Linked DNA regions of Homo sapiens: all the other regions are linked to region 3. Evidence: fine-mapped expression QTL. A gene starts in region 3. Each other region holds a variant in brackets. All regions are shown on one strand. Distances are between the middles of the regions.

Evidence for each region.
Region 1: its variant is fine-mapped to the expression of RFK in tibial artery (GTEx, PIP above 0.99).
Region 2: its variant is fine-mapped to the expression of RFK in lung (TOPMed, PIP above 0.99).

Annotation. Positions count from the first base shown.
Region 1 is chr9:76,448,510-76,456,693 of GRCh38, forward strand. It overlaps a transcript of GCNT1 not described here. Among named protein-coding and RNA genes, the nearest start is that of GCNT1, 6.6 kb to the right of the region's middle. The variant G/A (reference allele first, on the strand shown) is at 3,505.
Region 2 is chr9:76,429,452-76,437,635 of GRCh38, forward strand. It overlaps a transcript of GCNT1 not described here. Among named protein-coding and RNA genes, the nearest start is that of GCNT1, 26 kb to the right of the region's middle. The variant G/C (reference allele first, on the strand shown) is at 3,192.
Region 3 is chr9:76,390,609-76,398,792 of GRCh38, forward strand. RFK (riboflavin kinase) reads right to left here and starts at 3,818. Exons shown (of 4, transcript NM_018339.6): 1 at 3,482-3,818; 2 at 1,810-1,961. The coding sequence starts at 3,563. It also overlaps a transcript of GCNT1 not described here and the pseudogene RPSAP9. RefSeq lists enhancers at 3,089-3,902, 3,765-4,059, 4,237-4,476 and silencers at 3,267-3,756, 3,797-3,876, 3,897-3,956.

The DNA of each region.
Region 1 (8,184 bases), 58 kb after region 3:
TTTAGGTGTATAGTTCCATGACTTCTGACCAACCTACTAACCCAGGCAATTATTACCACAATCAAGATAAAGAACATTTCTATCACCCCAAAAAGCAAATGCCCTCCTCTCCCCACACTCAGCCCCAGCAACAACTGCTCTCCTTTCTGTCACTATAGATTAGATTTGCCTCTTCCAGAATTTCAGATACATAAACATGAATCAAACGGTCTGTACTCTTTCGTGTTTGGCATCTTTATCTCCACATAAGGTCTGGAGATTCATCCATGTTGAAGTGTGAATCAATTTTGCTTTCTTAAATGTCATTCCATTATTTTAATATGATATGCTGCAATTTGTTGATCCATTCAGACAGGTACTTCTTTTAACTTGTTTTTGCTGGTAAACACCCTGATGGGCATCTGCTCACTGTACATGTCATTTTCTTTTGGACAGAAATGCTAAATTTACTATTATTTGTTCATTTATTTTATGTTTTTCCAAAATGGAAACATCTTTCTGAAACAATGGGAAAGGGATCAGAATATGCCACCCCAGGCTGGGCATGGTGGCAGGGCCTATAATCCCAGCATTTTGGGAGGCTGAAGTGAGAAGATCCCTTGAGGCCAGGAGTTTGAGACCAGCCTGGGCAATAAAGCAAGACCCTGTCTCTACCAAAAACAAAATAAAATAAATTAGCGGGGCGGGGTAGTGTGTACCTGTAGTCCTAGCTACTTGGTTCAAGATGACAGTGAGGTATGATCACACTACCACACTCCAGCCTGGGCAACAACAAACAAGACCCTGTCTCTATAAAAAACAACAAAAAAAAAAACAAGCAAATAAAATGATAATAGTAAAAGTAAAAAAGAATGTGCCACCTCAAAACATGCCATATTGGCATAAGGATTATTTTGAGCTAAAGGCAACTGAGAAACAGCAGACACAAGCAAAACTCTTTGCCCTCTCTCTTTCTACCTACAAACGTTTGCCTAATTTCCCTTTGCAAAGGTGATGCCCTCTCCCATACCAGAATAAGGTGAACAATTCATCTGCATAACACACCTCACTAAACAAGCCTTAATTACCATGCCTTTCCCAGTTACCTTCCCACAATTTACCCACACCAGAGAAGCGCAGCCTCTCCCCATTTCCCTTGTCTAGTAGCTTCCCACACTTTATCATCCTCTGTTAAAATGCTGTATAAGCTCCTGGGTCTAAGCACCTCTTTGGGATTTTCACTTTTTTTCTGTGAAGCTTACATATGCAAACAAAATAAACCTTTTCGTTTTTGTTTGTTTTGTTTTGTTTTTGAGACAGAGTCTCACCCTGTCACCCAGGCTGGAGTGCAATGGTGTGATCTCGGCTCACTGCAACCTCTGCCTCCTGGGCTCAAGTGATTCTCATGCCTCAGCCTCCCAAGTAGCTAGAATTACAGACGCCCAGCTAATTTTTTGTATTTTTTGTAGAGACAGGTTTTCGCCGTTTTGGCCAGGCTGGTCTCAAACTCCTGACCTCAAGTGATCCACCAGCCTCAGCCTCCCAAAGTGCTGGGATTACAGGTGTGAGCCACTGCGCCCGGCCCTATTCGCCTCTTTTTATAAATTATATGTAACTGATGGTGTGTAAATTCTGTCCTGTCTGGCAATAATTTAATTGGTTCCCGCCATCCCCACCCTATGAAAATACCAGTTTTGTTTCCATTTGCAATTCATCTTAACATTCCTTTACTCCAGATAAATCTGTGCTTTTTGACTTTTCCTTTGAAATGTTTATAACGTACATCTGATTCCCTTATAGCATATGCGTAAATTCCTTAACAGATGTGCACTTTTATATTTGTATGAGTCATGATTTTATCTTTCTCTGAAAATTATTTTTTAACAACCCTTACATTGTTTACAGTGTTTCGATTCTGAAATCTTTGTGTATTTGTAAAATTTCCTACATAGGATAAATTCCTAGATGAATAGTTGTCCATAAGTATCCATGTTGTCCAAATGCCTTCTAGAAAGTTTGTAGAAATCTCTACAACAGAGAGCAGCACAGGAGTCTGTATTCCTACACCTTCATCTATATTATGTTTATCAATCTTTTTCAACTTTGCCAATCTGATAGGTAAAAAGTGATTTGTAGTTTTAATTTGCTTTTCTTCAATTCCTATTGAAATTGAGCATCTTTTTATGTGGATTTCTTCTTTAGTGAAGTATCTTATCATGCCCTTTGCCCATTTTTCACCTGGTGCATATTTTTACGTAAACACCCCTTTATTTGAAAAATTAATTTTTGCTTACATACTATTGCATATATTTTCTAGTTTGTTGACTTTTAACTTTGTTTATGATATATTTTGTTATGCATACATTTAACACTTTAATGTATTAACTATATCAAACTATTTTGTGTGTGATTTTAGCTTTGTTGCCATTCTGAGAAATGCTGCCTGCTCTTAAAAGGGATCAACCTGTTTCTTTTTAAAAACATTAAAGAACTTACATGTATGGGTTTTAGAAACATATTTCAGGCTTTACTCTACCTGGAATTTGCATGCTTAGGAGCCACACTTTCTTTTTTTCCTGGACAGTACATTTATGATTGAATTTGCTTTCTCCATGCTTTGAAAGTAGTACCTTACTCTTTTATGTCTTCCTCATGTTCTTTTCAATGTAATTTGATTAAATTTCTAAAACAATTCAAAACTAATTTTGTAGCATTTGTCAAAATAAATCTGGATTTAGGCAAGGGGAGACTTTATTCAAAAGGATTATTGCAAGAAGAGGATGGGTGGCTATCATAAAAGGATGAGGAGAGCTCTTTAGCCAGTGCTATTTTTCAGAAAAACAAGGCTCTGGCAAAGATCAACACTGTTGACCTCCCTTTTGTTAATGATAAAAGAATATTATTCACCACTGAGCAATTCAGATGCAATCCTAAGCCTCCTACATGGGGTGAGTCAGGGACTAAGAAACGGTCTCCTGGGGACTCTGGTTGGTGTTGTTCCCACAAAACCAGCTGAAGCATCTGTTGAAAGGTGGTGGCAAAAATCAGTTGTTTAAGGGTCAGGTATCTTAAAATGAGGAATGCCTACCATTAAAAAGATAAATGTTAATTAAAAGTTTTAATATAAAAGGCCAAAGAAATATTAATCTTGGCATCTACAAGCCAAGGAGAGAGGCCTCAGAAAAAGCCCAACTCTGCTGACACTCAATTTTGGACTTCCAGCCTCCAGAATTGTGAGAAAACAAAATTCTGTTGTTTAAAGTACCAGTCTATGGTACTTTGTTGACAGACCTAGCAAAGTAATATACCTACAGAGAAAACTATGAAGTAGATAATTAGCTGTCTGTCATATACCAGCATATTGTAGCAGACTAGTCAAGCTTAAGGTTATATATCTTGTGACTTTTTTATAGCCATACACTTCCTTATAGTACAACTTTTCTTTTCTTTTCTTTCTTTCTTTTTTTTTTTTTTTTTTGTTGTTGTTGTTGTTGTTTTGAGATGGAGTCTCTCTCTGTCGCCCAG[G/A]CTGGAGTGCAATGGTGTGATCTCGGCTTACTGCAACCTCCACCTCCTGGCTTCAAGTGATTCTCCTGCCTCAGCCTCCCGAGTAACTGGGATTACAGGCCCCTGCCACCACATCCAGCTAATTTTTGTATTTTTAGTACAGATGGGGTTTCACCATGTTGGTCAGGTTGATCTCAAACTCCTGACCTCAGGTGATCCACCCACCTTGGCCTCCCAAAGTGCTGGGATTACAGGTGTGAACCACTGCACCTGGCCTGTACAACTTTTCAGTGTGGCAAGAATGAACACATCATTAGCAGACCAAAATATATTTAGCCTCTCTGTACTAAAAAAAATTTACATAAGCTTTAAATTATGCTCCACTAGTCTATCTTACTTAGAAATGATCTAGGTACTTATATTAGACCATTCTTGTATCGCTATAAAGAACTACCTGAGACTGGGTAATTTATAAAGAAAAGAGGTTTAATTGGCTCACAGTTCTGTACGCTGCACAGAAAGCATGGCTTGGGAGGCCTCAGGAAACTTACAATCATGATGCAAGTTGAAGGGGAAGCAGGTACATCTTACACGGCTGGAGCAGGGGGAGGAGAGGCAGGGAGGAGGTGCCACATACTTTTAAACAACCAGATCTCATGAGAACTCCATGACAAGACAGCACCAAAGGGATGGTGCTAAACCATTAGAAACCGCCTCCAGGATTCAATCACACTCCATCAGGCCCCACTTCCACAACTGGGGACTACAATTCGATATGAGATTTGGGCAGGGACACTGATCGAAACCATATCACCCCCGAAGTGGGAAGGGCTCCCTACCCAGCTAGTTTCCCCTTCAGCCAGACCAGCTGTACCCTACTTAATCTTCAATCTAAGGAGCTTTACCTACCTGCCAGCCCACAGAACTATTTGAACAAGCCAATTACATCCTCCCGTGGAATAAAAGGTTACCTCACTCTTGTGCCATTACTACAAAGCCTGCCTCACACAGCCCCTGCTGCTTCAGTCTGCTTTCAAATGCAATTCCCATGTGGCTCTGCCTGGCATGCAATAACCTCCTCACCCCTTAGGCTGTGAGTATGTAACTGAAAAAACTGTAGCCAATCTCATCTGCCCAGTATTGGGTGTCATCTGTTCAGCCATCTCCTGTTTAGCACAGGAGATCCCTGCTTCACCAGTGCTGTGAAGAGAAGGTGGTCAGAACAGAAGGGAGGCCTAATCTTGAGTGACCATGAGTTGAGGAGCTGGAGTGGGTAGGAAAAGGTGTGTAGGAATGGGTAGATGGGTGAAGGAGGTGGACAGATTAAATCATTCAAGGCAACAAAAGAGAAGGTTTAAAGTGGTAAAAAGGAGGGATGAGGATGATGGGAAGGGAGAAGTCTTAGATGAGCTGGTTTAAGGAGATCTCATGTTTCCCAAAGAGGCCTTTGAGGTTCTAGGTTACCTTTAGTAAATTGTGCCATTTTTGAGGCTATTAAACTGAATTAGTGCCATAATAGCAGGTACTCAGTGGGGGAAGAGGAGGGCATCTGATAGAGTGAGAGTTACCCATGGCATTAGTGGATAGTCAGCCCAAAGAAAAGTCTTTAAAGGAGCCAAGAAAAACTCCCACTTGATTAATTCCCTTGAACAATCCCCAGGTCGAGGAGCTGAGGAAACACAGAAGTCTCACAGGAGGGCCAAAGCATCTCTTTGCCTGAAACAATCAAAGTAACCTCTTACTGTTCTTCAACAGACAAGATGGCCAGAGCACTGGTTCAAGACTTGAACTCACCCAAGAGTCCTCAAGTCCTGAACATGGCACCTTTACCTGGGTGGGGCTGGTGGAGGTCCCTAGGTGAGTTCCAGTCTTGAGCTGGATCACAGCAATGAGAACTGTCAAATAAAAACCAAATCCAGATCTAGGTAAGGAGAGACTTTATTTAGAAGGATTATTGCAATAGAAAAAGAGAATGTCGCAATAGGGGAGGGACGGCATTCTAATAGAATGCTTCAACCATAAGATCTGCAAGCTTTTGAAAGGTCAGGCAGAAAAGGGTTTTTCTTTTTTTGGTAGTAGTAAACAATGTTAAAAAGAACCAGTATCGGCTGAGTGCGGTGGCTCATGCCTGTAATCCCAGCACTCTGAGAGGCCAAGGTGGGAGGATCACCTGAGGTCAGGAGTTTGAGACCAGCCTGACCAACATGGTGAAAACTCGTCTAAAAATACAAAATTAGCTGGGCATGGTTGGTGCATGCCTGTAATCCCAGCTACTTGGGAGGCTGAGGCAGAAGAATCGCTTGAACCCGGGAGGCGGAGGTTGCAGTGAGCTGAGATTGCACCACCATTGTACTCCAGCCTGGGCAACAAGAGCGAAACTCTGTCTCAGAAAAGAAAAAAAAAAAAAAAAAAAAAAAAAAAAGAACCAGTATCAGGGAGTGGGATGAGCAGGTGGCCCAATCAGGCAACTGATCAGGACAGAGTTTCTTTGTGGTCAGCTGGAAAAGGGCTTCTTGGGAGGGGATGTGATATGGTTTGGCTGTGTTCCCACCCAAACCCCACCCAAATCTCATCTTGAATTGTAATCCCCATAATCCCCACGTGGTGAGGGAGGGGCTTGGTGGAGGTGATTGGATCGTGGGGGCAGTTTCCCCCGTGTTGTTTTTGTGATAGTGAGTGAGTTCTCAGGAGATCTGATGGTCTTATAAGGCTGTTTTCCCTGCTCTTGCTTGCTCTCTCTCATCTGCCGCCGTGTAAGATGTGCCTCTTCCCCTGCTGTCATGATTAAAAGTTTCCTGAGGCCCCCCCAGCCAGGCAAAACTGTGAGTCAATTAAACCTCTTTTCTTTTCTTTTTTTTTTTTTTTTTTTTTTGTTAGACAGAGTCTCACTCTGTCGCCAGGCTGGAGTGCAGTGGCATGATCTCAGCTCACTGCAACCTCCGCCTCCCGGGTTCAAGCGACTCTCCTGCCTCAGCCTCCTGAGTAGCTGGGATTACAGGCGTGCACCACCACGCCTGGATAATTTTTGTATTTTTAGTAGAGACAGAGTTTCACCATGTTGGTCAGGCTGGTCTCGAACTCCTAACCTTGTGATTCGCCCGCCTCAGCCTCCCAGAGTGCTGAGATTACAGGCGTGAGCCACCGCACCCAGCCTTTAAACCTCTTTTCTTTATAAATCATCCAGTCTCAGAAATGTCTTTATAGCAATGTGAAAGCAGACTAATACAGGACATTAAGGGGCTTATTCCAAATTCCAATGCTGGTTTAGGCTGAGACTAGATTAAAGGGCAAAGACCTGATGGAAGGAGAAAAGCCTCATTGAAGTTTGATCAAGTAAGGTATTTGCCCAGATTGATCAGTAGGGGCAAATGGTTCAGCTAACCATTTATAAGATGAGAATGGAAATTTGGAGCGCATGTCTATGGCCTTGTTGTAAGTGTGAAAGGATGTTATCCATGATGATTACCTAAGTCATTTGGGGAAAGGTGGTTCTATGTAGTTAGTGGTTTCTCAGAAAATACAGCCGGGAGAGGATGTTCACTGGTCTCCAGTAACACAAAGTATAGGTCAAGCAACACCATCCCCTTACTTTTTTTTTAATTTATTCTTATTTATTTATCTATTTTTGAGATGGAATCTTGCTCTGTCACCCAGGCTGGAGTGCAGTGGCATGATCTTGGCTCACTGGAACCTCCGCCTCCCAGATTCAACCGATTCTCGTGCCTCAGCCTCCCCAGTAGCTAGGATTACAGGCATGTGCCACCGCACCCAGCTAATTTTTATATTTTTAGTAGAGACGGGGTTTCGCCATGTTGGCTAGGCTGGAACTCGAACTCCTTACCTCAAGTGATCTGCCCACCTCGGCCTCCCGAAGTGCTGGGATTACAGGCATAAGCCACCATGCCCTGCCTCTGTCCCGTTATTTGATTGTACTTGTAACTATAGTTTTATTATGACATTTTAAGAATATATTGCTATTGTATTAATCATTACTATGACAGCTGTGTTTATCAGACACTTTCCCACATCTATAATATTAGGAGAGTTGGGTGTTTGTGATCATGAGTTTGCTCCTTGTGCTGGTTATTGAAGTATGTCTTAGAGTTCAAACTCAAGCTTCTATCTTCTGCTTTGTGAGCCAGGGCTGGGACTTAGCAAATCACATTTCCTATAAGGTTTTGCTTATAAGGGGTGCTTGAGGAGAGGGACTTGCTACTTTATAGCTGCTTACTGTTCCTGTCCATGTTACCAAGCAATGGCTCTTCTCCCTGGCTGCAGCAACAGCTGGTTCCAGTTTCTTAGATTTGTTTGTTTGTTTTAATCCACCCTCTCCCATCCAGCCTCAATATTTACCTTCAGAGATAAAAGCACCAGCTGGGTACCGCCCCCTCCTTTGAGGTCTGACTCCCAGCCAACCAGGGGCCCTCTCCTGGCTGTTAGGTTCTGATAACCCCAACACTTCCCCTCTCCCCAGCTCTGTGCATGGCAGCTGCTTCCTGCAGTTACTCTCTCTCTGTTACTACAATGTTTTTGCCTTGCCAATCTTCATGACCTTAAATTCTCTGTAAAAGTAATTGCTGTGATTTCTGTTTTCTGACTGGGCCCTGACTGATACACCCCTAAGCATTCCAGAAATACCTTCTAAACTACTTGTATAGATTTATGGGTGTATGTTATTGCAGGCATTAAAAATAAGTGGGC
Region 2 (8,184 bases), 39 kb after region 3:
CAAATCATTCCTTAATACAGTGGCCTAAAAACCAACATTTATTATTTCTCATGATTTTTTGGATTGGCAGCCTGTTCTCCTGGGCTGGTGATCTTGGCCAGGACTGGATTTTCTAAGATAGTTTATTCATATGTGACAGCTGGAGTCTCTCTCATCATTTAGGAGGCTAGGTCCAGCTTGCTCACATACAAGCAGAAAGATTCTTGCCAGCAAGAAAGTACAAGCCCTAATGAATAGAAGGTTTTCAAGCCTCTGTTTTCTTTCTTTTTTTTTTTTTTTTTTTGAGACGGAGTCTCGCTGTCTCCTAGGCTGGAGTTCAGTGGCGCAATCTCGGCTCACTGCAAGCTCCGCCTCCCGGGTTCCTGCCATCCTCCTGCCTCAGCCTCCTGAGTAGCTGGGACTACACGCACCCGCCACCACGCCCGGCTAATTTTTTGTATTTTTATTAGAGATGGGGTTTCACCATGTTAGCCAGGATGGTCTCGATCTCCTGACCTTGTGATCTGCCCGCCTCGGCCTCCCAAAGTGCTGGGATTACAGGCGTGAGTCACCATGCCCAGCCTCAAGCCTCTATTTTCATCACATTTGCAAATGTCCCATTAGCCAAAGCAAGGCACATGACCAAGCTCAGATTCAAGGGGCAGAGAAATATACTCTAGCCTTTGGTGGCAAAAGAGACAAAATTATATAGTAAAGCGTTATGTATACAGGAATGGGAGAAATAGGTGGCTGTTTTTTTGCAACCTACTATATACTGGCAGTGGGTGAAAGTTCTATTTCCCTACATTCTTGACAACACTTGGTATTACATGACTTTTAAATTTTTTGCCAATCCGAGAAGGATTTAAAAAATCTCATTATTGTTTCTATTTTAATTTGCATTTTTCTGGTCATTAGTAAGGTTGTATATCTTTTCACATAATTATTGACAGAACACTCATTTTTTTTTTAACAGGGTTTCACTCTGTTGCCCAGGCTGGAGTGCAGTAGTGGGATCATGGCTCCCTGCATCCTTGACCTCGGGGGCTCAAGTGATCCTTCCACCTCAGCCTCCTCAGTAACTGGGACTAAGGGTGCTTGCCACCATGTTCGACTAATTTTTTTTTTTTATTTTGGTAGAAATGAGGTCTCACTATGTTGCCTAGGCTGGTCATGAACTCCTGAGCTCAAGCCATCCTCCTTCCTTGGTCTCCCAAAGTGCTGGGATTACAAGAATGAGCCACTGCACCTGGTTAGTCCTCTTTTTTTTTGAGACCAAGTCTCACTCAATGGCCCAGGCTGAAGTGCAGTGGTGCAATCTCAGCTCACTGCAACCTCCGCCTCCCAGGCTCAAGTGATTCTTGTGCCTCAGGCCCCTGAGTAGCTGGGAATACAGGTGTACACCAAACCACACCCAGCTAATTTTTGTAATTTTAGTACAGATAGGGTTTCACCATGTTGGCCAGGCTGGTCTCGAACTCCTGACCTCAAGCAATCCACCTACCTTGGCCTCCCAAAGTGCCGGGATTACGGGCATGAGCCACTGTACCTGGCCTCATCTCTTAAAGTAACATGCACACACATACACAGGAAAAAGAATGAAAGAATATATATTGGAGTAGTTCAATTTGGGTAGTGGAGTTACAGATGATTTTTATTTTCTCATATCTAAATTTTCTAAAATGAACATCTGTTACAGAGGGAGGAAAGTAAATGAATATGTTAAAACGTCCTGGCAAAATCCCCAACTGGGCTAACAATAACTAGGTGCACTGAAATTTAGTTCTGACACTAACCACATGGAGTTAGCATCAGACTCCACAAGGTAAGGCTCAATCCTCCACAAGACTGCCCTCACATCAGATGCCAGCCCTTAGCAGGGACCCCAGGTCATCCATACTCTGACCTACTCGCTACAGATTTGGGGGTCCCATGATCCACTCAGTTTCAGTAACTTGCTAGGACAACTCACAGAACTCAGGAAAGTGCTACACTTATGATTATAATTTTATTATAAAAGTTACGCATAGGGTGAGGTCTGGGAGAGAACACAGAGCTTTCTTGCTCTCTCCTCTTGAAATCAGGAAACATCACCCTCCTAGCACATCAATGTGTTCACCAACCCGGAAGTCCCACTGAGCCTCCATGACCAGAGTCTTTTATTGGGGTTTCATTATCTAGGCATGATTGATTTAATCACTGTCCACTTGATTGAACTCAATCTCCAGCCCCAGTCGCCTCTTTGGAAGTCGGGAGGTCAGGCTGATATCAAAGCGCCAACCCTCAAATTAAGCGGTTGGTCTTTCCAGTGACCAGTCCCCTAGCTGTAGCCATCCAAGAGCCTGCCATTAATACCTCATTAACACAACAAAGACTCCTATCCCTTAAGAAATTCCAGGCCAGCCACGTTGGCTCATGCCTGTAATTCCTGCACTTTGCGAGGCGAGGTGGATGGATCAATTGAGGTCAGGAGTTTGAGACCAGCCTGGCCAGCATGGTGAAACCCCATCTCTACTAAAAATGCAAAAATTAGCCGGGTGTGGTCATGGGCACCCATAATCCCAGCTTCTTGAGAGCCTGAGGCAGAAGAATCGCTTAAACCCGGGAGGCAGAGGTGGCAGCAAGCTGAGATTGCACCACTGCACTCCAGCCTGGGCAACAGAGCAAAATTCTGTCTCAAGAAAAGGAAAAAAAAGGAAAGAAATTCCAAGGGTTTTAGAAGCTCCTTGCCAAAAGCATGAGACAAAGACCAAATTTTTTATTGGGTGACCTAAATATATTACATTTAGTATATTACATAAAATACATTACATCTAGTCCAAAAAAAATGTAGGCAATCCAAATTAAAATTGTCTAGTGAAAATATGGGCAATTGAGTCTTAAAATGTCTAATATCTAGTTTAATATATTTGTTTGTTTTTTGTTTTTTCAAGACAGGGTTTCACTCTGTTGCCCAGGCTCAAATGCAGTGGTGTAATCATGGCTCACTGCAGTCTCAACCTTCTAGGCTCAAGCGGTCCCACCTCAGCCTCCAGAGTAGCAGGGACTACAGGCACGCAGCACCATGTCTGGCTTATTTTTGTATTTTTTATAGAGACAGGGTTTCGCCATGTTGCCCAGGCTGGTTGAGAACTCCTGAGCCTAGGTGATCCGCCTGCCTGGGCCTCCCAAAGTGCTGGGATTACAGGCGTGCTCCACTGTGCCCATCCTTA[G/C]TTTAATATTGTCTTTCACATACTGATAGCGGTAGGAGGCAGTCAAATGACTAGGCAGATGGGGTGGATCCCTGGTAAAACCCCACCTTCAAGCCAAAGGCAGTTTAAAGCCTGAAAGCCAAGCTAAAAGTCTTGCATAAACATAGGAACTGGATTGAGAATCTCTTTCTATTTGTCATGCTTTCCTTTGATTGATCCTCACCCTTCACCTATTTTATATATACCTTCTCTTTCCTAATTGTTTTTTTACAGTCGTGCTCACCTTTGAACGGTGCCTTTGTTTTAGGCTTTTTTGGATACTCACAAACCAATTAGCATGCACTCCTGCCTTCTGAGCCCACAAAAGCCCCATACCCAGCCACACTGAGAGAGAGACCACCCGACCAAGTGGGAGACCACCCTTGTGGCCCCTCTCTACTGAGAGCTGTTTCATTAGCTGTTTCATCACTCAATAAAACTCTTCTCTGCCCTCCTCACCCTTCAATAGTCAGCATAATCTCATTCTTCTTGGATGCGGACCAAGAACTTGGGACCCCTCCGAATGCAGGTACAAAGACGACAGTAACACTGTAGCCCTCTGCCCTGCCCCCTCTTCGGAGCTCAGCAGTTGCCCCACGTAACGGAAAGCAGCAGGGCCAGGTCATCCCCAAACCTGTGGGCTGGAGTGGGGCAATGGGACTGACAGAACTGTTAACGTGCCCCTGTTCATCAGGCTGTGGAGGAACTAAAACAGCTGTTAGCACACTGTAACACCCCCTCTGGGGCTTTGGGGTTGCAGGTTTTGCTGTTTGTGTGCCACGGCGTACCCCTCATCTGTATGCTGGAGTCCACCATGGGAGTCACTTGCCACATGCCTGGGCCAGCCACTAGCCCCACATGTAGACTGCTCCTGTGCTGGCCTTTGGAGAGGCCAGCCAGACCCTGGACTCACTTGCCCACACACCCCCTCCTGCCAGGGGCTGAGTGCTGCAGTCGCGGTGGCCACAGGATCCATGCTGGAGTGCAAGCCAGGCACAGTTTGGCAGGCTGAGTGGGCAGGGTGCCTCTTGCAGGGAGCCCTGGGCTGAGGGAAGCCTGGGCAGGGGTATCACCGGCTGGAGGTTTCCTGCTGGCAAGGTGGTTGAGAAAAATCCTGTGTCAGTACCAGATAGTAGGATGTGTGATGGATTTAAGACAATAGGGGATTCTGACCCTTCTACTTTCTAGTGGCTGTGACTTCAGCCCTCAGTTTGTTGTCCTTCAGTGAACCTCCTCATATCCCTCAATTGTTGCAAAGTGCCACTGAGCTGATGCCTGTGAAAGAGCTCTGTAAAATTCAAAGTTATATAAAAATAATACAGCAGTTCCTCCTTATTCTTCGGTTCACTTAATCTATAACCTAAGAAGTAGAAGTTACAACTACATGCTGCATGACTCAGATCAGAGTCACATCTCTCTCAAGGCTTATAGTGTTTGGGGGATTTCAACAGCTTTTACATTTTATTTTCACATTATGCATAGGAAAAAGCATAGCACTTACAGGGTTCAGTACTATTAAGGATTTCGAGTATCCACTGGGGGTCTTGGAACGTATCTCCTGTGGATAAGGGGGGACTAATGTAGTATGATTATCATCATCAACAGAAGCTATGACACCAGGATAAATAGGCTAGAGAGAGCTCTCTGAGCCATAGGTCATGTTCAGGACTCACTATTGTGGGAAGTCAGGGACCCCGAATGGAGTGACTGGCTGGAGCCATGGCAGAGGAACATAAATTGTGATTTCATGGACATTTATCACTCCCCTAATAATACTTTTATAATTTCTTATGCCTGTCTTTAATCTCTTAATCCTGTTATCTTTGTAAGCTGCGGATGTATGTCACCTCAGGACCCTGTGATGATTGTGTTAACTGTACAAATTGATTGTAAAACTTGTGTTTGAACAACATGAAATCTGATTGTAAAACATGTGTGTTTGAAAAATATGAAATCAGTGCACCTTGAAAACTAACAGAATAACACCGATTTTAGGGAACAAGGGAAGACAACCATAAGGTCTGACTGCCTGCGGGGTGGGGCAAAAAGAGCCATATTTTTCTTCTTGCAGAGAGCCTATAAATGGATGTGCAAGTAAGAGAGATATCGCTAAATTCTTTTCCTAGCAAGGAATATAATATTAAGACCCTAGGAAAAGAATTGCATTCCTGGGGAGAGGTCTATAAACAGCCACTCTGGAAGTGTGGTTGAGATAAGGACTGAAATACGCCCCGTCTCCTGCAGTACCCTCAGGCTTATTAGGGTGGGGAAGAAATCCCACCCTGGTAAATTTGAGGTCAGACCAGTTCTCTGCTCTCGAACCATGTTTTCTGTTGTTTAAGATGTTTATCAAGACAATACGTGCACAGCTGAACATAGACCGTCATCAGTAATTCTAATTTTGACCTTTGCCTTGTGATCTTTGCTTTTGTCCTTGCCCTGTTTCCTCAGAACCATGTGATCTTTGTTCTCCCTTTTTCCCTTTGAAGCATGTGATCTTTGTGAGCTACTCCCTGTTCATACAGCCCCTCCCCTTTTAAAATCCCTAATGAAAATTTGCTGGTTTTGCGGCTCGGGTGGGCATCATGGACCTACTGATATGTGATGTCACCCCTGGCGGCCCAGCTGTAAAATTCCTCTCTTTGTAGTCTTTCTCTTTATTTCTCAGACTGGCCAGCAATTATGGAAAATAGAAAGAGCCTACGTTGAAATTTTGGGACCAGTTCCCCCACTGGTCCCAAATTCAGCCTCAAGAAGACTGAATTAGTCAGCTCCCACTACCATAACAAGTTACCACAGACTCTGTGGCTAAAACAACAGAATTTATTTCTTCACAGTTCTGGAGGCTAGCAATCCAAGAATAAGGTGCCAGCAAGTTTGGTTTCTGGTGAGGCTTCTCTTTCTGGTTTGTTGATGGCCATCTTCTCACTGTGTCTGTCCTCTTGTGTGTACCCACAAAGAGAGAGAAAGAGTTCTTAGGTGTCTTTTACTCTTCTTACAAGGACACTGGTCCTATTGTATTAAGGTCCCAGCCTTATTACCTCATTTAATGTTAATTACATTCTTAAAGCCCTATCTCCAAATACAGTCACATCAGAGGTTGGGACTTCAACATATGAATTTGGGGAGGGACACAATTAGGTCCATAACAAAGACCATAATCTTGAGTGGAAAAGAGTCCTAAGATTAGGGTTTTCACACAGTGAAGGGTCTTAAATTTATTGGTACATTCAATCCTGGAGCACTTCCTTTAGTAAGAATGACAGAGTGCTAAGCAGTAGTTCCCATATCTTTTTTTTTTTTTTTTTTTTTTGAGACAGAATCTCGCTCTGTCACCCAGGCTGGAGTGCAGTGGCACGATCTCGGCTCACTACAACCTCTGCCTCCTGGGTTCAATTCTCCCTCCTCAGCCTCCCCAGTAGGTGGGATTACAGGCATGTGCCACCATGCCTGGCTAATTTTTGTGTTTTTAGTAGATATGGGGTTTCACCATGTTGCCCAGGATGGTCTTGAACTCCTGACCTCAGGTGATCCACCTACCTCGGCCTCCATCTTATAAGAAAACATCTGTGTAACAAATTAGGATAGGGTTGTCCAAAGGGTGTTTGAGGAACATACCTTCCACAAGTGGTGGGAATTTGGGGGAAATTACACCATTTCCCTGCTTAGAAAGTCACAATGCCTTGGGAGGCAGAGGCAGGCAGATCACTTGAGGTCAGGAGTTCAAGATCAGCCTGGCCAACATGGTGAAAGCCCATCTCTGCTAAAAATACAAAAATTAACTGGGCATGGTGGCATGTGCCTGCCTGTAATCCCAAGTACTCCAGAGGCTGAGGCAAAAGAATCACTTGACCCTGGGAGGTGAAGGTTACAGTGAGCTGAGATCGCACCACTGCACTCTGCACTCCAGCCTGTGCGACAGAGTAAGATTCCATCTCAAAAAAAAAAAAAAAAAAAAAAGGCACAATAGCATATTAAAAACTGAAAATTTCGTCCATTTACTCAAATAACATTTATTGATTTATTGAATGCCTACTATTTTCCAGTCACAAGCTGTGAGTAAGACAGGAATTAATAGGAGCAACCTAACCTAATATAGGAAGTAAAGGCAATGGATAGTTGAATGCTGACTCCCTCAAAATGGATGGATAGCACCAGGCTTAGTTCAGTGCTTGTTGAGGTAAGAGAGATTGTCAGACAGAAAACCAAACACTGCATGTTCTCACTCATAGGTGGGAATTGAACAATGAGAACACTTGGACACAGGGTGGGGAGCATCACACACCAGGGCCTGTCGTGGGGTGTGGGGAGGGGGAAGGGATAGCATTAGGAGATATACCTAATGTAAATGATAAGTTAACGGGTGCAGCACACCAACATGGCACATGTATACATATGTAGCAAACCTGCACATTGTGCACATGTACCCTAGAACTTAAAGTATAATAATAAAAAAAGAAAAGAAAAAAATAAATATATGGGGAAAAAAAGAGAGAGAGAGAGATTGTCAGAAACATGTGAACAAGAGCAACTCCATCTTGAATAGGAGCTGGGTAAAATAAGGCTGAAACTTACTGGGCTGCATTCCCAGACGGTTCAGCATTCTAAGTCACAGGATGAGCTGGGAGGTCGGTACTTAGATACAGGTCATGAAGATCTTGCTGATAAAACAGTGTGCAGTAAAGAAGCCGGCCAAACCCCACCAAAACCAAGATGGCAATGAGAGCGACCTCTGATTATCCTTACTGCTACGCTCCCACCAGCGCCATGACAGTTTACAAATGCCATGGCAACGTCAGGAAGTTACCTTATATGGTCTAAAAAGGGGAGGCATGAATAATCCACCCTTTGTTTAGCATATCATCAAGGAATAACCATAAAAATGGGCAACCAGCAACCCTTGGGGATGCTCTGTCTATAGAGTAGCCATTCTTTAGTCCCTTACTTTTCTACTATACTTGTTTTCACTTTACTC
Region 3 (8,184 bases):
AGCTGAGATTGCACCACTGCACTGCAGCCTGGGTGACAGAGCAAGACCCTATCTGAAAATACAAAACAAAACAAAACTCTGTTCTTCAACACACCATTGAGAAAAAAAAAAAAAAAACCACACACACACACACAATGAAAGAAATTTGTAATACAACAATACACAGTTCCAACAAAGGAAGTGGATCTAGATGTGTTACTAAGAACTTATTTAAGGTCAGTAAGATAACGCTTTTTTTTTTTTTAAAGGACAAAGGTCTGGCACAGGCACTTCACAGATGTGTGTTACTGGCAAAGGCAAGCAAAAGTTCAATTTTCCACTGGTAAGATATGCCTATGTTTCAAATTCAATTTTTCCTAACACTCAAAAGGCATTCCTTAACTGGCTGTATAATAACATTTTTGTTATCTAAGTAGCTAAAGACAAATTAGTTATGGGCTATTGTCCCCTCCCCTTCTTTTCCTTCCTCATTCAACAGAATGGTATTTTGTGATCTTTCGATTGTTTTCCTTGTCTCCAAAAAATAATTTTCAAATCATTAATACTGAAAAATAACTGAAATACTGAGCAAAATGTTAAGTACTTCTGCGTCATTACTATTGCTTACGCCAGCATTTAGCTCTGTAGTTTTCCAGCAGTGACACACTTCACTTCTATTAACTCCACACAGAACAAAATTTAGCTTCACTGTAATTTGTTTTTGCCACACATTTGAGCTGACAAAAGATTCAGCCAAATCTAACAGATAAAACACTGAAGTTGTGGGGTCCTGTAAAGAGTAGGGCAGAAAAGTATACCCTCAGGTGGTTTAAAAAGGAAAGAGAAAAGCACCAATGTGGGACTGTATCAATAAGCACCATCCTCCATCCACCATCCATGTAGTAAACTGTTTTATCTTAAGAGGGTGACCAAGCGCAATTGATGCATGAAGTAAATGGTGAATGAAGTGCATTAATTGTGGCAAGCTCAATTTTATGAAACAGGCTTTTAAATCATTTTTATCTTTGGTCAAGTGAGTCTTTCACAGACAGCAATTATCAAAGTCAGTATTATAATTTTGGTTTGTAACTCCACTCTTTATTTTCTACATAATTTAAAAAATAAATGCATAAAAAAACCAATTATTAATCTTTGTTATTGGGTACCACAATGTATAAGGATGTAATCTGAGCCAGATGCAGGCAGTGGCATGTACCTATAGTCCCAGCTCTCTGGAGGCTGGAGGAGGATTACTTGAGCCCATGAGTTTGAAGCTACAGTGTGCTACAACCTGGCCTGTGAACAGCTACTGCACTTCAGTCTGGGCAACATAGTGAGACCCCATCTTTAAAAAAAAAAAAAAAGATGCAATTTCTGAGTTCTGTATGCTATTGAAATTAAGTTGGTATAAACTCAAATTAAACTTTTAGAATTTCAGGATGTTAAATATAAACCCCATGGTAACCACAAAGACAGTATCTATAGAAATACACAGAAAGCAATGAGAAAGGAATTAAAATGTCACTACAAAACAAAACAAAACAAAAAGCACACTACCACAAAAGGCAGTAATAGAGGAAATGAGGGACATAAAAGTTATAAGGCATATAAAAAACAAATAGCAAAACAGTAGATGTCCCTCCTTATCAGAAATTACTTTAAATGTAAATGAATTAAACTCTCCAATTAAAAGACAGAGATTGCCCAAAATTCCAGTATTTGAACTACGTTGTGATTACCACTGATAAGCTATTTCTGTAACGAATACTGTAATATATTATTCTAAGTCATCATACCATTTTCGGTTACAGAGCAAAATATAATGCTTACCATAGACTTCTTCGTATTCTTGTAATATGGGTTCCATCCTATGCTCACCACCATCTTATGGACATCTCCACTTCCAACACTGGCCCAACCATAGTAAATACCAGTGGATATATCAGCTGGAAGATTATCTACCACTTGCTCAGGAAAATTAGCTAAACAACAGAAGAAAATATTTTGAGTCTTACAAATTTCGTATTAAATGCCTGTAGCCGAGTGCAGTGGCTCATGTCTGTAATTCTAGGACTTTGAGAGGCCAAGGCAGGAGGCTCATGTTGAGCTCTGGGGTTTGAGACCGGCCCGGGTAACATAGTGAGATCTTACCTCTATTAAAAAATTAGCTGGGGATGGTGGCCTGCACCTATAGTCTAAGCTACCAGAGAGGCTGAGGCAGGAGGGTCAGTTGAGCCCAGCAGATGGAGGCTGCAGTAAGCTATGATCGCACTACCACTGCACTCCAGCCTGAGTGGCAGAGCCAGATTCTGTCTCAAAATAATAATAAGAAACAAACATTTGTAAAAATCACATGCAAGGCTAATGTAAATCATTACATTCACAAGACTCCTACAACTTTGCCTGTAAGTATCAATCCCATCCTTCCATTTTCCGGCTCAGATTTCCCTCTCCTATTCATGTGAATAGGTTATGAATAAAGTACCAGGTAAGTATATAAAGCTCTCCAAAAAAATCCATACTCTTTGAGTAGGATGCAAAAAACAAGTACCAGAGTAGATGGATTTTTTCAGATCTGTTCTTTCCTAACCAGGTACTGAATCACCTGAAAAGTTTCTTTCTTTTTTTTTTTTTTTTGAGACGGTGTCTCACTCTGTCGCCCAGGCTGGAGGGCAGTGGCACGATCTCGCCTCACTGCAGCCTCCGTCTCCTGGGTTCAAGCGATTCTCCTGCCTCAGGTTCCCGAGTAGCTGGGATGACAGGCACGCGCCACCATGCCCAGCTAATTTTTGTATTTTTAGCAGAGACGGGGTTTTACCATGTTGGCCAGGCTGATCTCGAACTCCTGAGCTCAGATGATCCGCCCGCCTCGGCCTCCCAAAGTGCTGGGATTACAGGCGTGAGCCACCACGCCCGGCCAAAGCTTCTTATTTTTCAAATACACAAGCTCAAGGCTGACTTAACAAGTCAAGACGCAGCTCTGGCATGTATTTCTAAGGATGAATTACAGTCAGGTCTCGATTATTGAAATTAATGTAGACAGACCAAGAAGGTTAGCTGACTCTCATTCAACTACCTATGTTATCATTTGGACATTACATAATTACAAATTAAAAACAAAACCACCTTAGACCCGGCTTGCGAGTTCAGCCGTTCTGGCCCACGTTACGTCTCTAATGGGCAAGACAAGCGCAATGCTTGACCAACTGTACCTTGGCTGGCCAAGGAGGCGTGAACGGGGAATCCTGCGATTCATCTCGGGCTTCCGGCCCTCACCACCCCTCAACCCCGTCCCCGCGGAGCTCGGAGCCAGAAGCAGGGACAAGCTCCCTCAACCGAGCCAACGGTCCTCCGCCACAGACAAGGGGATGCGGGAGGAGGAAGGGTGTGCTCTCTGCCCGCGGTCCGGAGGCCCCACGCCCCGGTCCCAAGTCCCCGGCTGCCGTCTCTCCCCGCTCCCCACGTGACCCGGCCCGGGGGACTCTGGCCGCCCTGCTCTCACCTGTGGGGATGCCCAGCTGCTTGGAGCCGCGGCCGAAGCCCCGCACCACTTGACCCCGGCAGAAGTAAGGCAGGTGCCTCATAATGCAGTCCGCTCGGGGAATGGGCTGCGGCCCGGTCTGCGCGTCCTGCGGAGCCGCCGTCGACGCGGCGCCCAGACCCCGGACCAGCCGGGGGACAGGAGCGTGAGCTCTGCCTGCCGCGGGGGCGCACCAGTGGCCGGACGACGCCGACCACAGGCCACTGCGAATCCCTGACGCCGCCGACCCAACAAATACCGCCGGGCGCCTGAGGAGCTGCGTCTCCGCTGGAGGGCAGCGGAGACAGCCGAAGTAAGTGCCGGGTGTGAGCGGGGTGGGGGGAGGGGGCGGCCCGAAGCGCAGAGCCGGCCTCCGCGCCGCCGGCGTGCGCTCCCTTCCTCAGCCGAACGCCTCGAGCCCGCTCGGCTTCCGTAGCCCCGCCCCATCATGGCCCCGCCCCGCCGCTGCCTCGCCCGGCTCCCGCCGCAAGCTCCCGCTGCAGGCTCCCGCCCCAGGCGCCTAATGTCTGGATCCCGGGCTTCGTTTCAGCCCCTGGCGATGGGAACTAATGTGGAAACCCCGTTTTCAGCCTGAGAGCCGCGAAAGCACAATTCTCGAACAATTCTGGTTTTTTTTTCTCCTTCCTCCTGTTCATAACAATCCGGAAGCCAAAGTGAGACGCTCTTTAGCTCCTTGGCAACCGCTGGGTTGAACGTCAGGCATCGCTCGTTCCGTTCGCTCTTTAAGTATTTATTAAAGCTCCAAAATTCAGCTCAAAGATCGCCTCTTCACAGAGGCTTTTCCTGGCCGCCCTACCAGAAGCGGTCGTCCTCCAGGACCACTGACCACGTTCTGGAGTTATTAATATATTCGAATGTAAGCTCCAAGGGAGAAGTCCCTGTCTGTGACGCTGTTAACCCCAGAGACTAGTGGAAGGTTACCGACATGGGCGGTGACTGTCCCCTCCAGGCTGTCTTCTTGACAATTTCACAAGCCCGATAACAGGCCGTCCCTCTACTGCAATGCAGATAGAGGCCTTCGTACCCTCGGAACTGTAAATACGCACGCTCCTAGGGAAGTAGCTCTGGGCTCACTCACAGGATATGCAGGGTGCAAGGTTATAAGAAGGTGCATCCTCTTAACGTCTCGAAGACAAAGAAGTTTTTTATTTATTTTTTTAAATTTTTAATCAATGGAATCCAGAGAAGTTTAATTTTTTTCTTTTTTGCTCTATACATTTGTATAAAATTCTGTGCAGACCGTGTAGTCTCTTTCTACCTTACATGTATGCATCTCTGATAAGATTTACCTGATATTAAATTTATGTTCTAGGCCAGGCTTGGTGGCTCACGCCTGTATTCCCAGTAGTTTGAGAGGCCGACGCGGGAGGATTGATTGAGCCCAGGAGGTCGAGGCTGCACTGAGCTATGATAACGCCACTGCACTCCAGACTGGGCGACACAGTGAGACACCCTCACCCCTTAAAAGAACTAGAGAAGAAGAAGGAAGGGAGGGAAGGGAAAGGAAAGGGGAAGGGAAAGTGAAAGGGAAGAAAAGGGAAGGGAAGGGAGAGAAGGACCCAAAGAAGCAATTATGGTCAGTTACTTATCTATACGGAATTAAACAAAGAATAATGAGAATAACGATAATAGTAATACCGGTAGTAAGAGTAGTAATAGCAAGTTGTGAAAAGCAATTAAGTTATCTGGAGAGGCTTAAGAGTTATTTTAGCAAGGTGTGTACAGGATTCTCTCACTCTTGACTCCCGTCCTTAATAAGAGTGCTGCATTCCTTCTAATATAGGGAGGATGTCTCTCATATGGTAATTTCATCTGCTTCTAAGAAACAGAAAAGAGGTCAGAATGATTTTTTTGTATCTATTGTTTTTCAAGTGCTTTTAATTCAAAATAGTCAATATGCAAGAATGGTATATTTTTAACTTCATCAGCAGTGATACACCTAATAAGAAAAGCCTGGAGGTGAGAACTTGATAAATCATCCCTGGGTCTTACGCCACTAAGCCCTAGGTTGCAAGAAGGTATGAGAATTAAATGAGATAAAATAATTAAATGAATCATAGGAGGTAAATGAGGAGGGGTGGTTTTAAGAATAGAGAAAATGCTAAGTATTTTTCACACTGTCTCATGTAATCCTCTCATCAGCTTTGTTGGAAAGCATTAACCTAAACGTATAAAAATGGGCGGGGCATGGTGGCTTACGCCTGTAATCCCAGCACTCTGGGAGACCGAGGTGAGCGGATCTCTTGAGCTGAGGAGTTCAAGACCAGCCTGGGCAAAATAGGGAGACTTCCGTCTATCCAAAAATTTTAAAATAAAAATAAGTAAGAAAGAGAGAAAAAAGAAAGAAAAGAAAAGAAACAAGAAAAAAAAGAAGAAAGGGGAAAGAAAAGAAGAGGAGAAAATAAGAAAGAAAATTTTAAAAATCAGCCAGGGCCTGGCACAGTGGCTCATGCCTGTAATCCCAGCACTTTGGGAGGCTGAGGCCGGTGGATCACTTGAGCTCAGGAGTTGGAGACCAGCCTGGGCAACATGGTGAAACCCCGTCTCTACAAAAAATACAAAAATTAGCCGGGAGTGGTGGCGCTCACCTGTGGTCCTAGATACCCTGGAGGCCGAGGCACAAGAGTCGCTCGAACCTGGCGGCAGTTGCAGTGAGCTGGAGATCACGCCACTGCACTCCATATGGGGCAACAGAGCGAGACTCTGTCTCAGCCAGGTGGTGGTGGCTCGTGCCTATAGCCCCAGCTACTTGGGAAACTGAGGAGTGAGGATCGCCTGAGCCCCAGAATTTGAGGCAGCAGTGAGCTGTGATTGAACCACTGCACTCCAGCCTAATGACAAAGCAAGACACGGTCACTAAAAAAATAAATAGGCCGGGCGCAGTGGCTCTTGCCTGTAATCCCAGCACTTTGGGAGACCGAGGCAGGTGGATCACCTGAGGCCAGGAGTTCAATACCAGCCTGGACAACATGGCAAAACTCGGTCTCTACTAAAAATACAAAAATTAGCCAGGCATGGCAGTGAATGCCAGTAATCCCAGCTACTCGGGAGACTGGGGCGGAAGAATCGCTTGAACCCAGGAGGCGGAGGTTGCTATGAGCCGAGATTGCTCCATTGTACTCCAGCCTGAGTGACAGAGCAAGATTCCTTCTCAATAAATAATACATAAATAAATAGATAGATTTAAAAAAAAAAAGGAGAGTCTTGTAGAATGTTTAAGATGGAGCAGTCAGGCTCCAATCTTTAAAACTACCATTTACATGTCAAGTCATATGGGTAATTACTGTGTTATCAGCATAGGATATAGAAGAAAGAATTTTTTTTTTTTTTTTTGAACCAGAGTCTCACTCTGTCACTCAGGTTGGAGTGCAGTGGCGCAATCTCGGCTCACTGCAACCTCCACCTCCCGGGCTCAAGTGATTCTCCTGCCTCAGCCTCCCGAGTAGCTGGGACTACAGGTTTATGCCACCACGCCCGGCTAATTTTTGCATTTTTAATAGAGACAGGGTTTCATCATGTTGGCCAGGCTGTTCTGGAACTCCTGGCTTCAAGTGATCCACCTTCCTCGGCCTCCCAAGAAGGAAGAATTCTGATCATTTTCCACCACCGCTCAATAGCGTTCAATGGCTCCTCCCCTCTGACTGAAGAATAAACCCTCCAAGAGTTGTACTTCTAAGAACTCCCATCAAGTACTCAATCTGTTGATCAAAGCAGACCCCTCCACCTTGCTTCAGAGGCCAAAGCATATGCTTCAAATAATTCAATAATTATTCTGTAGGCTATAGGATTTATAATTTTTCTTCTTCATTTGACTCCAAAAATATGCTACCTAGCATTCTCAGTAAATCTAGAGTTGAGAGTCTATGTGTCTTTGCCAAACTTACTGCTTTTAACCAAGGAAGTATTCTAAAACGTGTTTTTTATTTCCCCCTCTGAACTGCACTTGCACATCCTTTCAGCTGCCTGTAGGGAAAGAGTCCACTTCTCTGGTTTAATTTGTCTCTGTAGAAAGAAGGATCACAAATAAGACTAAAGAGAAAGTAGAACTGGCAGCTTGTGAGGGAAAAGAAGGCTTATTCTAAGTAAGCAATGAAAAATGAATCTGAAGAATTCTTAAAATTCAGCAATAAGAAAATAAGCAACTCAATTAAAAAATGAGCAAAAGATCTGAATAAGCATATGAAAAGATGTTCAACATCATATATCGTGAGGGAAATACAAATTAAAACAACAATGAGATACTACTATATACCAATTAGAATGGCCAAAATTCAGAACACTGACAACACCAAATGCTGGCAACCATGTAGAGCAACAGGAACTTTCATTCATTGTTGGTGGGAATACAAAATGGTACAGCCCCTTGGAAGATAATATGGCAGTTTCTTATAAAACTAAACGTACTTTTACTATGTTATCCAGAAATTGTGCTCACTTATATTTAATCAAATGAGGTGAAAACTTTTATCCACACAAAAACCTATTTGTTTTTGCTTTCCGCGCTACCTACAGAGGGGCCCATACGGCGTTGTTCTGGATTCCCGTCGTAACTTAAAGGGAAACTTTCACAATGTCCGGAGCCCTTGATGTCCTGCAAATGAAGGAGGAGGATGTCCTTAAGTTCCTTGCAGCAGGAACCCACTTAGGTGGCACCAATCTTGACT